3 separate regions of the Homo sapiens genome follow, and all the other regions are linked to region 1. The links come from fine-mapping of genetic effects on gene expression. A gene starts in region 1. Each other region holds a variant in brackets. All regions are shown on one strand. Distances are between the middles of the regions. Region 1 holds the start of RAB30-DT (RAB30 divergent transcript). Region 2 overlaps RAB30 (RAB30, member RAS oncogene family). Region 3 overlaps ANKRD42 (ankyrin repeat domain 42).

Evidence for each region. PIP is the estimated chance that this variant, and not a neighbour inherited with it, causes the effect. A credible set is the group of variants that fine-mapping cannot tell apart.
Region 2: its variant is the best candidate, but not a certain one, in a credible set for the expression of RAB30-DT in whole blood (INTERVAL, PIP 0.57).
Region 3: its variant is the best candidate, but not a certain one, in a credible set for the expression of RAB30-DT in subcutaneous fat (GTEx, PIP 0.63).

Annotation. Positions count from the first base shown.
Region 1 is chr11:83,070,026-83,074,271 of GRCh38, reverse strand. It overlaps RAB30-DT (RAB30 divergent transcript), which reads right to left and starts at 2,206. Exons shown (of 3, transcript NR_038903.1): 1 at 2,126-2,206; 2 at 1,468-1,649; 3 at 560-969. RAB30 (RAB30, member RAS oncogene family) reads left to right here and starts at 2,375. Exons shown (of 5, transcript NM_001286060.2): 1 at 2,375-2,581. It overlaps LINC02951 (long intergenic non-protein coding RNA 2951), which reads left to right. Exons shown (of 3, transcript NR_186233.1): 3 at 1,576-1,870. RefSeq lists enhancers at 1,933-2,422, 4,186-4,246.
Region 2 is chr11:82,977,298-82,981,543 of GRCh38, reverse strand. RAB30 (RAB30, member RAS oncogene family) reads left to right here. Exons shown (of 5, transcript NM_001286060.2): 5 at 1-4,246. Among named protein-coding and RNA genes, the nearest start is that of SNORA70E, 62 kb to the left of the region's middle. The variant CAG/G (reference allele first, on the strand shown) is at 2,021.
Region 3 is chr11:83,235,245-83,239,490 of GRCh38, reverse strand. It overlaps ANKRD42 (ankyrin repeat domain 42), which reads right to left. Exons shown (of 11, transcript NM_001300975.2): 8 at 2,982-3,087. Among named protein-coding and RNA genes, the nearest start is that of ANKRD42, 44 kb to the right of the region's middle. The variant A/T (reference allele first, on the strand shown) is at 1,912.

The sequences.
Region 1 (4,246 bases):
CAAACACATGACAAATTATAGAAATCACTGTATTCTAGAGGTATCACTTCTCAAACACAAGCTTTCTTTCTTTTTTAAAAACAGACATAGTCTCACTGTTGTCCAGATTGGAGTACAGTGACACAATCATAGCTCACTGCAGCCTCAAACTAATGGGATCAAGTGATCCTCCTGCCTCAGCCTCCCAAGTAGCTAAGCCTACTGGCATGCACTACTATGCCCAGCTCACACAGAAGGTTTCTGAGTAATCTGTTGCTCTTTTTCCCTACAATTTGTCTTCCATATAACTCAAACTGACAAGGCTATGGCTTACATAAAGAAATATATTATAAATCAACAACACTCATGATAAGTTTACATAAGACATGAGAATACACCTGAATCACCAACCGGGAAAAATGATTGAAGAGCTTGAAATTAAGCCTAAGTGTAAGTCTCTGTTAAGCTTACAACATTACAATAGTTAAATCGAAGGTTAGAAAGAAAATGGTAGACATTGCTCCTTTTCCTGTACTTACCACCATTACTTAGAGAAGTTTCTGAATAACAACAACTTTGAGCCTTTTTCATTGTTGTATTCATGGATGACACCAACACATACTACTTCTGCTTAAAAATCAAACTCATTCATCTTGACTTGTTCCCAGAAACATGACACAGAAGATCATTTTTTGAAAAAGTATTTTTGTAATTACCATCTGCATACACCTGAGAGACTGTTTCTAACATGTTTTGGTCATTTTTAATCATTCTATCTGCCTTTCTTTGTTATAAGGATCTATTTTTAATTTTATTCACTCCTAACATAGAGGGGAAGTGCATACCTTCAATGACGCAAAGTAACTAGTTAATGTTGTTTCAGAATAATATGCAAAAGGGAAGGGAGGAAACAGCACAAAGTATATCATATTTTTACACATCAGACACCTTCAGGAAGAAAGGACATTTCTCATCTTAGTGTGACAGACTCTGAAAAAGAACACACAGCACTGTTTCAGTGACACAAGAAAAAAAGTACAGTTCATTTTGAGATACTGTGCAAAATCACTCAAAAGACAATTAACTTTGGTTTCAGTCACTTAGTTAAAAAAAAAATTTATCCATGACCGATGTTACTCTGGAATCTATTGCCAGACGTCAGAAGGCCTATCATCAATAATATCCCACCCCTCCCGCCTTTTCTGAGACACGGGCTTGCTGTCGCCCAGGCTGGAGCACAGTGGTAGGATCGAGGCTCACTGCAGCCTCAACATCCCGGGCTCAAGCGATCCTCCCACCTCAGCCTCTAGTGTAGCTGCAACTACAGGGGTACACCACCATGCCCAGCTAATTTTTTTGTTTAATGTTTTTGTAGAGACGGTACGGGGTCTCCGCATGTTGCCCAGGCTGGGGTTGAACTCCTAGAATCACGCTATCTCCCCGCGTCTGCCCCCAAAGTGCTGGGATTAAAGGCGTGAGCGACCGCACCTGGCCAATATCCCCTTTGAACATCTGCTTTCGCTGGTTGGTAAAAAAGTGTCATTTTAAATTTAGTGTTACTCCTTCAGGCTATTCCCTCTCTCTTCTTACTTGCAGGGCCAAAGCAACGTCTCTTTCCACCTTGGTCACCTTCCAACAACGATTTCTTCGGACGCCTTTGTTAATCATTCCTGTATGAAAAATCAGTGAATCTGAAGCTTTGGGGAGAGTGAAAGGGGGTTGGAAAACAAACGGCAAAACAAAAATGCATTTCGGAGGACTACCCCAACTCTGTGGGTGGAAGTGGGCTTCTCCGAATAAAGGCGAGGGTCGCCGCCTCGGGTCCTCGCACCTCAACAAAAGACACCAACTCTCTCAACTGTACTGTTAACAGATCTAAATGATACTCCAAGCCCAAAAGTAAACCGACTCTCTCAATCTCTTAGCTAAAAAATGGAGAAGGAAGCGTAGGGCCCCATGCAACCCCTTCAGGAGCTGAGACCGAGGCTCACTGGGCCTCTGGATGCCGCTTCCAGTCGGTCCCGCCCTACATCAGTCCCCAGCATGGCCTCCACCCTCTGGTTCCCAGGTTCGTGCCCGCGGCTATCCGACCAGATCGTCCTCCACCTCACCGTCCCCACTGAACCACCACTTGACTCCTGCGCACCCCTAAAACCTCTGCCCGGCTCCGCGGAATCGTCCCAGTACTCCTAACATGGCGGCCGAGTCCCCTTTGCTCCTTCACTCTGGGCGCGTCCCACTTGGAGCATTTTGGGCATTGTAGTTTCGGGGATTGCCTGGGTATCCCTTCAGGACGTAAGAAGACTACAGTTCCCAGAAAGCACCGCTCCCGAGCATGGCTATTGGGGACGTTTGGACAGAGGGATGATGTCATTGCAAAAGCCCCACTGCATTCATTGTGCTACGGTCTCTCCACCCCCTGCTGCTGCTGGGCTTGCGATTGCCGCTCGCTCCAGCTGAGCTAAGTGTAGCAGCAGCACCAGGGCAGGGACTGACTCCAGCCCTTGGACTCAGGACATCGCAGACCTTCCCTTGCGTGCGTGACTCATTCGCACATCCATTTCTGTTTATGCCTGGGGTGGGGAGAAAAATCCCAAACCAGGTGAGTTGAAGTGATTTATTCAAATGCTTCTACCAAGTTATTCCTCCCGCTTAGTTCTCAAGGCTTTCTTTTGGGAAGCTGTGAGCGGTGGGGAGGTGGGGGGGATTGGGGAGAGGCTTGCAGGCACAGCTAAGGGGAAAAGCTCTGTGCCATTTGGGTCACTGCAAAGAACAACTCCAGCAACCTTCCCCCGCCAGAGGACGGGTGCCTGCCAATTCCCTAGTCGCAACTCCTCTCAACCTTTTTGAGGCGGAGAGAGGGGGCTGGGCTGGGAAGGATGTTGGGGAGTGCTCTTGGAAAATCTGAGGAAGGCAGAGGTGGGGGACTGCAGTCCTGTCACACACGGCCCGAGAGCTGAGGTTTGAGTGGGAAGGGGTGATGCGTGGGGAGAAATGGAGACAGTGAATTAATGTGGTCGCACTACTTTAGAACATTTGAATGTCGCTTGGACGAGCACTAGTTATTAATTTTTAAGATGAACGTGCTTAAGTTTTGTAGGGCTTTATTTTATGTGTGTATGTCTATGTGGTTTGTCTCGCCTTTTCTGCTGATTTGAGGTGACAGTGTCCTTTAATGGTGCACTCCGTGCCAGTCAGAAACATTTCACGTGTCTGGCGAAGGTTCTTTCAGGCTGCTGGAAGCAGCGTTTTTGTTAAATGTTTTCCGTTCTCCGACTGCTGGATTCAAGATTGTTTGGAAGTGGAGCCGACAGATTTGTGCTTGTGTGTTTTAAATTACATTGCATAGGCTCTTTGCCACTGACAATGGTACCATAATGAGCTGCTGTTTCCTGAGGCATAGTCACTACTCACAAATAACGGTTTGAAGAGATCGATTAGGGAAGAGGGGTTCATTTTAACACATTAGAGAAAGGGAAAGTTAGAAGCGCTGTTAACCTTCATTTGCCATTACTGAAAGGTGCCCATGGAAGAGTGATTTTGGTTGTTTTGTTATTGTTGTTTTTTTAAACGAACTGACATTTAACAGGAGAGAAAGCATTCTGACTTACATGATGCTCTTGTAAGAGTTATAGGGATAATTAGGGCAATAGATATGTTACTTTGAGATAAACAGCTGGCTGGCTCCACAACAGATGGGGCCAGTCTTGGCTGAGAGATCTACACCCTTGGAAATGAATGGGCCTGGGGTCAACCACACCCCCTCTTGGAATGTCAAAAGAAGGAGAAATGCCAGAGTATTTGCTTAACTCTAGAATGCTAAACCTTTTCCTAGCTGAGTCAGACATGGGCGAAATTCTTTACTGGCTGTCTTCTGCTGCTAAGCCAATTTTGTTCATTTTAAATTCAGATCCTTAGGTCTCCAAAGTTGTAGCTGTGTGATATTTCATTAAATGCTGCTTGATGCTGAATGCAAAGGACAGTCCATTGTATGGGCTTTGTAGTAGAGTGATTTATTGGGATGCCAATGAGCAGCTTTTGGATTTGGGAAAAGATCAACAGTTAGCCTTTGCCTCTGCGTCTCTCTGTTGATGACGCTCTGCTCTTCTGGACACCCTACCCTTCTCTCCTGTACTTTCATTTCTTCCCCCCACCCCACCCCATCCCACCCACATCTCTTGAAATTCTGTTTATTTCTCTATCTCTCCATTTGCAGTTTACATTTTTCCTTTCTGTTTCAAAACCCCTCCTTTATCACCAGCATATC
Region 2 (4,246 bases), 93 kb after region 1:
TTTGGTGCTAATGATTCCGCTATTTCACAGACCAAACGTTTTAGTACATTAATGTCCTTAAATGTGTTATATAGAAATAAAAAAATGGGGGAAGTCCATGAATCAGCACTCTTTCTCAAAGTCTCATTACTACCTTTTTAAAGGTGGATTTTTGGGAAAAGAGAATACTTTTCCTTTTATGTTCCCCTCTGAATCTCTACCACTTTCTTGTCTCTCCAGCCCTTTATGTAAATGAAAACGTTTGCAAAATGAAAAAAATAAACAAATGGTTGATGACATTCTAATATAAAAACTTAGCTCTAACACATTTTGAGTAGTATGAGGAAACAGACCAGATATGACCAAAATACTGTGGATTAATGGACTGTAGTGCAGGGCTCCTAGCAGAGCACAGTCCTTGATAGTAGGTCACATCTTTTACTTCCTGGTACTCTCCATCTTGGACAGACCAAGGCTTAGGATTTTGTAGATTTTTTAGTATGATAAGTGAGAATAGCAACAGATGAAAAGTCTCACGACCCATTTTTATATCTTCGATGATAACCTTAGAAAAATTCTGCTCGTGGAAGCAGATTGAACTGTCATTTATCCCCTCCTTCTTGTAATAATGTTACCTTCAGACGCTTAACCATATGTTCTTTCTTTTTTCTTTCTCTTTTCCTCTCTATTTTTCTGGTCTCTCCTTTTCTTCTTCCCTCCCTCCCTCCCTCCTTCCCTCCCATCCTTATATGCCTGTGTTACTGCAAATCTCCAATTCAAATGGAGGTGTATATGCCTTTACTTAGCCAATTTAAAAACAGGACTCAAAATGGGAGATGTGCTGCTGAATATGTGTTTCTTTTTCTTCAGTGCCATACTTTGATAGCTTCCAATTTGTTCACTGATATAAATGCAAATTGGGAAAATAATTAAACCTGTATGCTGTTGATGCTGTCAGATGTTTCTGTAGCTTGCTGCTTAGCATAACTGAGGGATGAGTAATGGAATAAGGATATGATGTGTAATTCCACTGTTGCTGTAGATGGTGACAATCTCAGTTCTGATATGTTGATGTTTGAAAGCTATTTAATTGTAAAGAAATTAGTCATGTAGAGACATGATGTGGATAAAGCATTTCTGGCATTTCTCTAGCAGGTTCTAGATTGACCAGTGTCTTGCACATGAGATTATGCATATTTTTTAAGGGGCTGATACTTTTGGTTGGCCTCACTGTGTTTTTCCTGATCCTGTGGGAAAGAGAAAGGCATCCCAGAAGTTTGACTTGTTTTTCTTTTAGAATCTGTCTCTGCAGGAAAGAAAAGTCATTTTAATAAAAACCAAAATAATTTATAATAATTGTTGCCTTTCCCTCCCCATCCTCTCCACTAAGCCAGCAACTAAATGTATTCAGAAAACAAGTTAATCAAGGAGGGCAGAAGAATTTTTTTTAAACTGTAAGAAAATGTTCCTAAGTTTAGATTTATTACCTGTCATTTAGGGCAAAAATCCAGTGTCCCCAGCACATGATGACCCAACTTTGTCTCACAGTTGCAAGTGTGTTGAAAATAAAGTTGCTTTGTGAACTTAGAGGAAATGGCTGTGTTAGATTGGACTGATTTAGTTGCAAAATAATACCTTTTAGGGTCACACTTGTATTATTCCCTAGGGTTTAGCCTTCTCTATATACCCTTGGCCAGACTCAGAAGGGGATTAAAAAGCTCTGGTCTTGGCCTCTATCTTCCTTGTTGCTCCTCCCAGCCTTTCCATAACTTACCCATCCACAGCCCATCAGCAGGAACACATGAGAATGTGGGACTTTGTTTCTTTTTTTCTTAGTTGTATGAATTCCAGATTAGGCCTTATGGATACTTGTCTACTAATATATCTGAAGTTTGAAAACAATCCCTGACAATATTGTAGGTGCAATAAATATTAGTCAAATAAACATTTAAGTGCCAAGGTGGGGTGGTAGTGGTTGGGGGAGCTTTTTTTGATTAAACAGAAATTCCTTCAAGTAGAACTTGAGAAAGGACACTAAATA[CAG/G]TCATCTTAACCCAGGCCAGAACCTAAATTTATTGGTTTGCCTAACAGTCTTATTGTCATGGCAATATTTGCTAAGATGAGCCTTCTTTAGATAAAAATGAACTCTCATTTAGTGGTGGATGAAAAAAGAGAAATTGCTTTATCATATAGTTTAATTTGGCTCGGTCTACTAAGACCACCAGGGTTGATGTATTCCTCCATTTTTGGTGTGATCTTTTTCTTCATTCAATAAAGTTATTAAATATATGGCAAAACTTTTTTCAGTTTCCAGTGAAAATGCATGATACTCATGTCATGGAGTCAGGCTTGGGAAAATCTATGAAATAATAGTTTGCTGATAATGATATTTTCTTATGGCTTTGTATAGACTACATCCTCAAAGGATTTTGTGCTTCTTTGCCCATAGAAGGCTTTTTCTCCCTTTGTGTGCTTTTATTAAATCTGTTGAATTATATTAATATTTTTTGAATTTACAGGGCCAATTATCTTTTTTGATGGATTACTTAGATTAGGCCATGGGTTCTTCCTGGCCTTTCTTTTTCTCGGTCTTTTAATCATTTCACGTTTTTATCTCTCCCTGAGTAAAGTGGCAAGAAAACTAAAAATGAAAGTTAAATGGGTTGATTTGACAATGTGTCAAGTTCTGATTTAGAGTTTATAAGGAAGGTAGAAACGATTGGCCAAAATAAGATATTTGGATGAGGATTATTTAAGCCGTTTAGATTTGGCCAGAGACGCCAGATTTAGCAAAGGACTGGGTTCTTATCTTCTTTCATTCATGAATATATGCCTTGGGAGGACACTGGTGATTCCCACAGAATTAGGCCAATGATTTGCCACATTACCCTTTAAGCTAGCCCATAATTCCACCAGATCCCACACCAAGTTTCAGTTCATGACTCATACTGAATAAACGTCAGTTGTAAATGATGTTTGAATTGGTCTTCCTACTAAAGTGAAACATCTTCTTTTAAGCCAAGCCACATGAATGAAATAGCACAATCAGAAAAAAATCTTTTTTTTTTTTTTTGCATATCAAACCAATGGCCTTCTCCACTAAGCCAGCAACTAAAGGTATTCAGAAAACAAGTTAATCAAGGTGGGCAGAACTTTTTGAACTGTGAGGAAATGTTCCTAAGTTTAGATTTATTACCTGTCATTTAGGGCAAAAATCTAATGTCTTTTTTATTTCTTAATCTTGTAGAACTCTGTATTTCATAGTAATGAGTACTTAGGGATCATTGCTCTATTAGCCTCTGGGAGAGATCTTCTAGAGTTTGCCATTCCTTTTTTTCCAAAATTTTTTGTTGTTGTTGTTGTTGTTTTAACTGCAACTGGTTACTTTTCTCAACCATGGTCCTGACATGTTTATACTATGATACTTTTGAGACTTCGCTAAAGAATTAAAAGCTGTGAAACAACATTTGCTTCTCATCCTTCAGACAAAATGTGTTCCATTTAAGCAGCATGGTTAAACACTAATTTTGGGATAAGGGAGGGATATGTTTTCTTTACTTTCTTTTTGGATTTCATTTCTGTGGCATGAGCCTATTTGCGTTTGGAAGGAAAGATGCCTTCCTTTACATTCTTCACACTGGTAATTTTTTCATACTGAATTAAGAAATTATCATCCCTTCAAAACACATATTAATATAGCAACATTAGAGTAAGGGAGATGGCATTTCATCTCCTCTCCTCAGTCCCTTGATGTTGGAATGTTATTATCATTTCCAGGAGCCATACTTTGAAATTAAAAACAAATTGAGGCATTACCAGTCTGATGAAGGAATTTTAAATGCAAGCCATTTAAAGAATACTTGAAGGATTTGGGGAGACTTAGGTTAGGAAAAAGAGGGGAATACAATTAGTGCATTAGAACAAGATGCTCTGTGGTTCAGAGGGGTGGAATGAGGCCTACTGAATGAGGCCGTAGGGACACAGATTTGGGTTCCATGTCAGGGCGACCATTCTCAAAAAGTTGGTTCACTATGGGACAGTCTGCCTCAGGTAATAGCCTCTGTCAAGAGGCAAAGATGTGGAGAGGATCCAATTGGTTGGAGATTGGAGCAGGTGACCTATTAACCTAAATTCCATGTTGTATGTAGTACTTTGCCTCTCATAACATGTTCAATTAAATATCTGTTAATTCATAGCTAATGATTTTTTTAATGGGGCCTCGTTCTTCTGCCACAAGTGCATCCCACCTTTATCTTTCAGGGAAGAG
Region 3 (4,246 bases), 170 kb before region 1:
ATTTTTATGACTTTGTGTTAATCAGACTTCTTTAGATATGACACCAAAATCATAATACATAAAAGGATAAATTAGTAAGAAATTTTGCTCTTCAAAGACATTAAGAGAATGAAAAAACGAGATACAACCGGTAAAAAAGGGAAATCTTTGCAAAGTATATATCTGAAAAAGAACTAGTATCCAGAATATACAAAGAACCTTTAAAACTCAACATCAAGAAAACAATTCAATTTTTTAAAGTGGGCAAAAGATCTGAATAATCACTTCATCAAAGAAAATATACAGATGGCAAGTATGTATATTTAAAAGATGCTCAAAATCATTTTTCATTAGAAAATGCAAATTAAAACCACAGTGAGCTACCACTACATACCTATTTCATTACTAGAATTAAAAAAAGACCCTGACAATACCAAATGATGGTGAGAATGTAGAACAACAGAAATTGACATCCATTGCTGACAGAAATGCAAAATTTTTTTTTTTGAGGGTCTAGCTCAGTCGCCTAGGTTGGAGTGCTGTGGTGCGATCTAGGCTCACCACAACCTCTGCCTACCAGCTTCAAGCAATTCTCCTGCCTCAGCCTCCCAAGTAGTAGCTGGGACTACAGGTGCACGCCACCACACCAGGCTAATTTTTTGAATTTTTTTTTTTTTTTCGGAGACAGAGTTTCGCTCTTGTTGCCCAGACTGGAGTGCAATGGTACAATCTCGGCTCACAGCAACCTCCACCTCCCAGGTTCAAGGAATTCTCCTGCCTCAACCTCCTGAGTAGCTGGGATTACAGGCAAGCACCACCATGCTTGGCTAATTTTGTATTTTTAGTAGACACAGGGTTTCTCCATGTTGGTCAGCCTGATCTCAAACTCCTGACCTCAGGTGATCCGCCCGCCTCGGCCTCCCAAAGTGCTGGGATTACAGGCATGAGCCACCATGCCCGGCCTGAACTTTTCCTTTTTAGTAGAGACAGGGTTTCACCATGTTGGCCAGACTGGTCTCGAACTCTTCACCTCAAGTGATCCACTGCCTTGGCCTCCCAAAATGCTGGGATTACAGGTGTGAGCCACTGCACCCAGCCCCTAGAAATGCAAATCTGTATGGCCACTTTGGAAGGCACTTCGGCAGTTTCTTATAAAGTTAAACATACACTTGGCATATGGCCCAACAATCCTACTCATAGACTTACCAAAGAATTGAAAACATGTTAACACAAAAACCTGTATAGTAATGTTTACAGCAGCTTTATTCATAACCACCAAAAAATGATACAATCAAGATGCCCTTCAACCTGTGAGTGGATAATCGAATTATGGAATGCTATGGAATTCTACTCAGCTGTTAGAAGAAAATGAACTACAATCAAGATGTCCTTCAACCTGTGAGTGGATAATTGAATTATGGAATACTATGGAATTCTACTCAGCTGTAAGAAGGAAATGAACAGCTAATACACACAGATGAATCTCAAAATAATTACGTTGAGTGAAAGAAGCCAGACATAAATATATATTGTATGATTCCATTTATATAAAACTCTAGAAAATGCAAACCAATCTACAGTGACAGGAAGCAGATCAGCGTTTACTTGGGCACACTGGGGAGCAGTCAAAGGGAGAGAGGTTATAAAGTGGCAGGAGACTTTGACGGTGATGAATATGTTCACTATCTTAATTGTGGCAATGGTTTCACAGGATACGCATACATCAAAACTCATCAGTTGTACCGTACAAATATATGCATTTTATTGTGTGTCAATTATACCTTGATAAAGCCATTTTAAACCAATAAAATAGACTTGAGCTGACAATGATCCCAGGTACATGGTACAACAAAACCACACTCCAAGTCATCAAAGAAATTCCATAAACAAAATTTTAGGGAACATGAGCTCACAAACAAAAGTTGCATGGCA[A/T]CTTAGCAAATGATTGGACCAGAGCATACTGTCAAGACTCATCTGCCATTGTTAGCCCACACTCCTAGTTTAGATTCCAGCCTTCTAATCCACATGCAGTTCTTCAAACATATAAGGTGTTGTCTTACAACTCCTCCTTACATTTACACTTACGCTTACAAGTGTCAACAGAAATGTTGCTTCCTCAAAAGAAAAGTTTTTTCTTTCACCTCTATCTAAATTCTGTCCCCATGCAGTTTCCTTCATAACTTTTACCTTCCTCTGTATTAAAGTTTCTCCCTTACAACTTTCAAACAGAAAGATTTTTTTCTATATTCTTAGTGTACCTTACACATACCATGTAATACAGTATAATGATTAGAATTAATAAGAATTTTATTTGCATATTTGTCTCTCCACAATACTGTAAACTCCTTGAGGGCGGTGACTGTGTTTTCTCCCCTTTGTATTTCTACCACTAATCACAGAACTTGGAACATGGTAAGTATACGGGAAGCTGAATGAAAGAACAACCAAACGAACAAATAGATGGAGTAAATATTTCTTGAGAACCTAACCTGAATGAGCTGGCTAGGTTTAAAAATACATGCTATATTTAATTCGGATGTAAATTGCAAAATATGTTTCAAAATCCAAGTCACTTATTTTTCTATTATTAATGTTGACTATTTATTTTTATCACACAGCATTTCTTAACAGGGAATGCTACAGGCATTTGGATGGGACAAATCATGAATTACTGTTCTGAGCACTGCAGAACATTTAGCATTCCCAGACCGGACCTCCAGTTGGTGAAGGTCTCTGGTCATTGTGACAACCTTCCCCAACATTTCCAAAGACCCCTCCCATGAGGAAACGGGAAAATATTACCTCCCAGTGGAGAATTACTGCTTGAAAAAGAAAAGCTGATATAATGGCAGCTGTCAATTCAGCTTGAAAATTGTCATTCCATCTGTATTTGATTGAGTCCTCTAAAATTCCATTAAAACTTCAGAGATTTTTGAGTCCAAAAAAGTATACGCAAAACTTTAAAGAGAAAAGAAAGGAGTAAAGAAGACAGAGATTTATACCTCTTTGCCACATCACTGGGTCTCTCCCCTGCTTTGTTGGTAATATTACTGTCTGCTCCCATTTTAATTAACCACTGCAAACACTCTATGTGGCCTTGTCCAGCAGCTGTTCAAAAAAAGGAAAAAGAACAGGAATTACACACAAAAAAGTTAGTTATTAGTAACAATTTTCTAAAATTTTGGACAGTACCATTATAGAGTACTTAGTTAAGTATTGATCCTTGCAGTAACTGGCAAAAGTACATTGGGCAAATATTATTTTCTCTATTTCACTTACTGATTCATTAGACAAACATTTAATCAACTGTGCTCAGGCCCCACACAGATAATTTTACACACGGATATAAAAGCTGAAACTCAAAAAGGTTATTTATGTATTTATTTAAAATCACACAGCTAGTAAAAAGTAGTTTGAAACTAGAATCCAGGCTTTTCTAATACTATCCAGTGCTTATCTCCTGCTATAAATAGCTCCTAACCAATCTTGTATTTCACAAGAATGTGAGCACATTCTAACCATAAGGACCTACACAGACTTCAAAAAGTCTTGCTTCAGCATATATTTATATGATAGATGTATGATATATATGTATTCTTCTGATTCTTACAACTCAAAATTTATAGGCCTGTAAAGCCACACTTAATTACCTAAACTGTTTACCACCTTTGTCCAAATCTTCACCTCATAACACATGCTGTCTTTATTTTCACCTTCACAACTCTGCTTATGTGTCTTCCCACCTAAAGCCAATCACTCAACAATGTGCTCATTTAACCTGTAACTATTCTTCTTCATCCATCTTGAAACTCAAGGAAGCTGAAGAAAACAAACTGAATAGACTTAAAAGAAAGACTTGAGTTTAGGTCTATTAAACAATAAGATGTGAGGACAGGGCTATAATCTTCATATCCTCAGACGACAGCAAGTGGCTGCAACTTACAGACCCTCAACCAATGTCTAAAGAGTTGATGAGTGAATGAATACTTTTAAAAAATGCAATCTTAGCTCTGCTCTTACTAGCTATATATCTAACCTCAGTCAAGCCACCTGACTTCTCTAAACATCAATTTCCTCATCTTTAACATAGACGATTGTTTTATAAGCAAAGCACACTGCTGCTTTATAAAACTGCAATAAGTATTAAATGTGATAAGAGCTTTTCACTCTACTAAGTAGTATATATACATCAGGTATTATTACCAAATCCCTATGAATAGCTCCTCAATAATTTGATCCTTAGCAACTTCTTCCATCCCTCAATTCC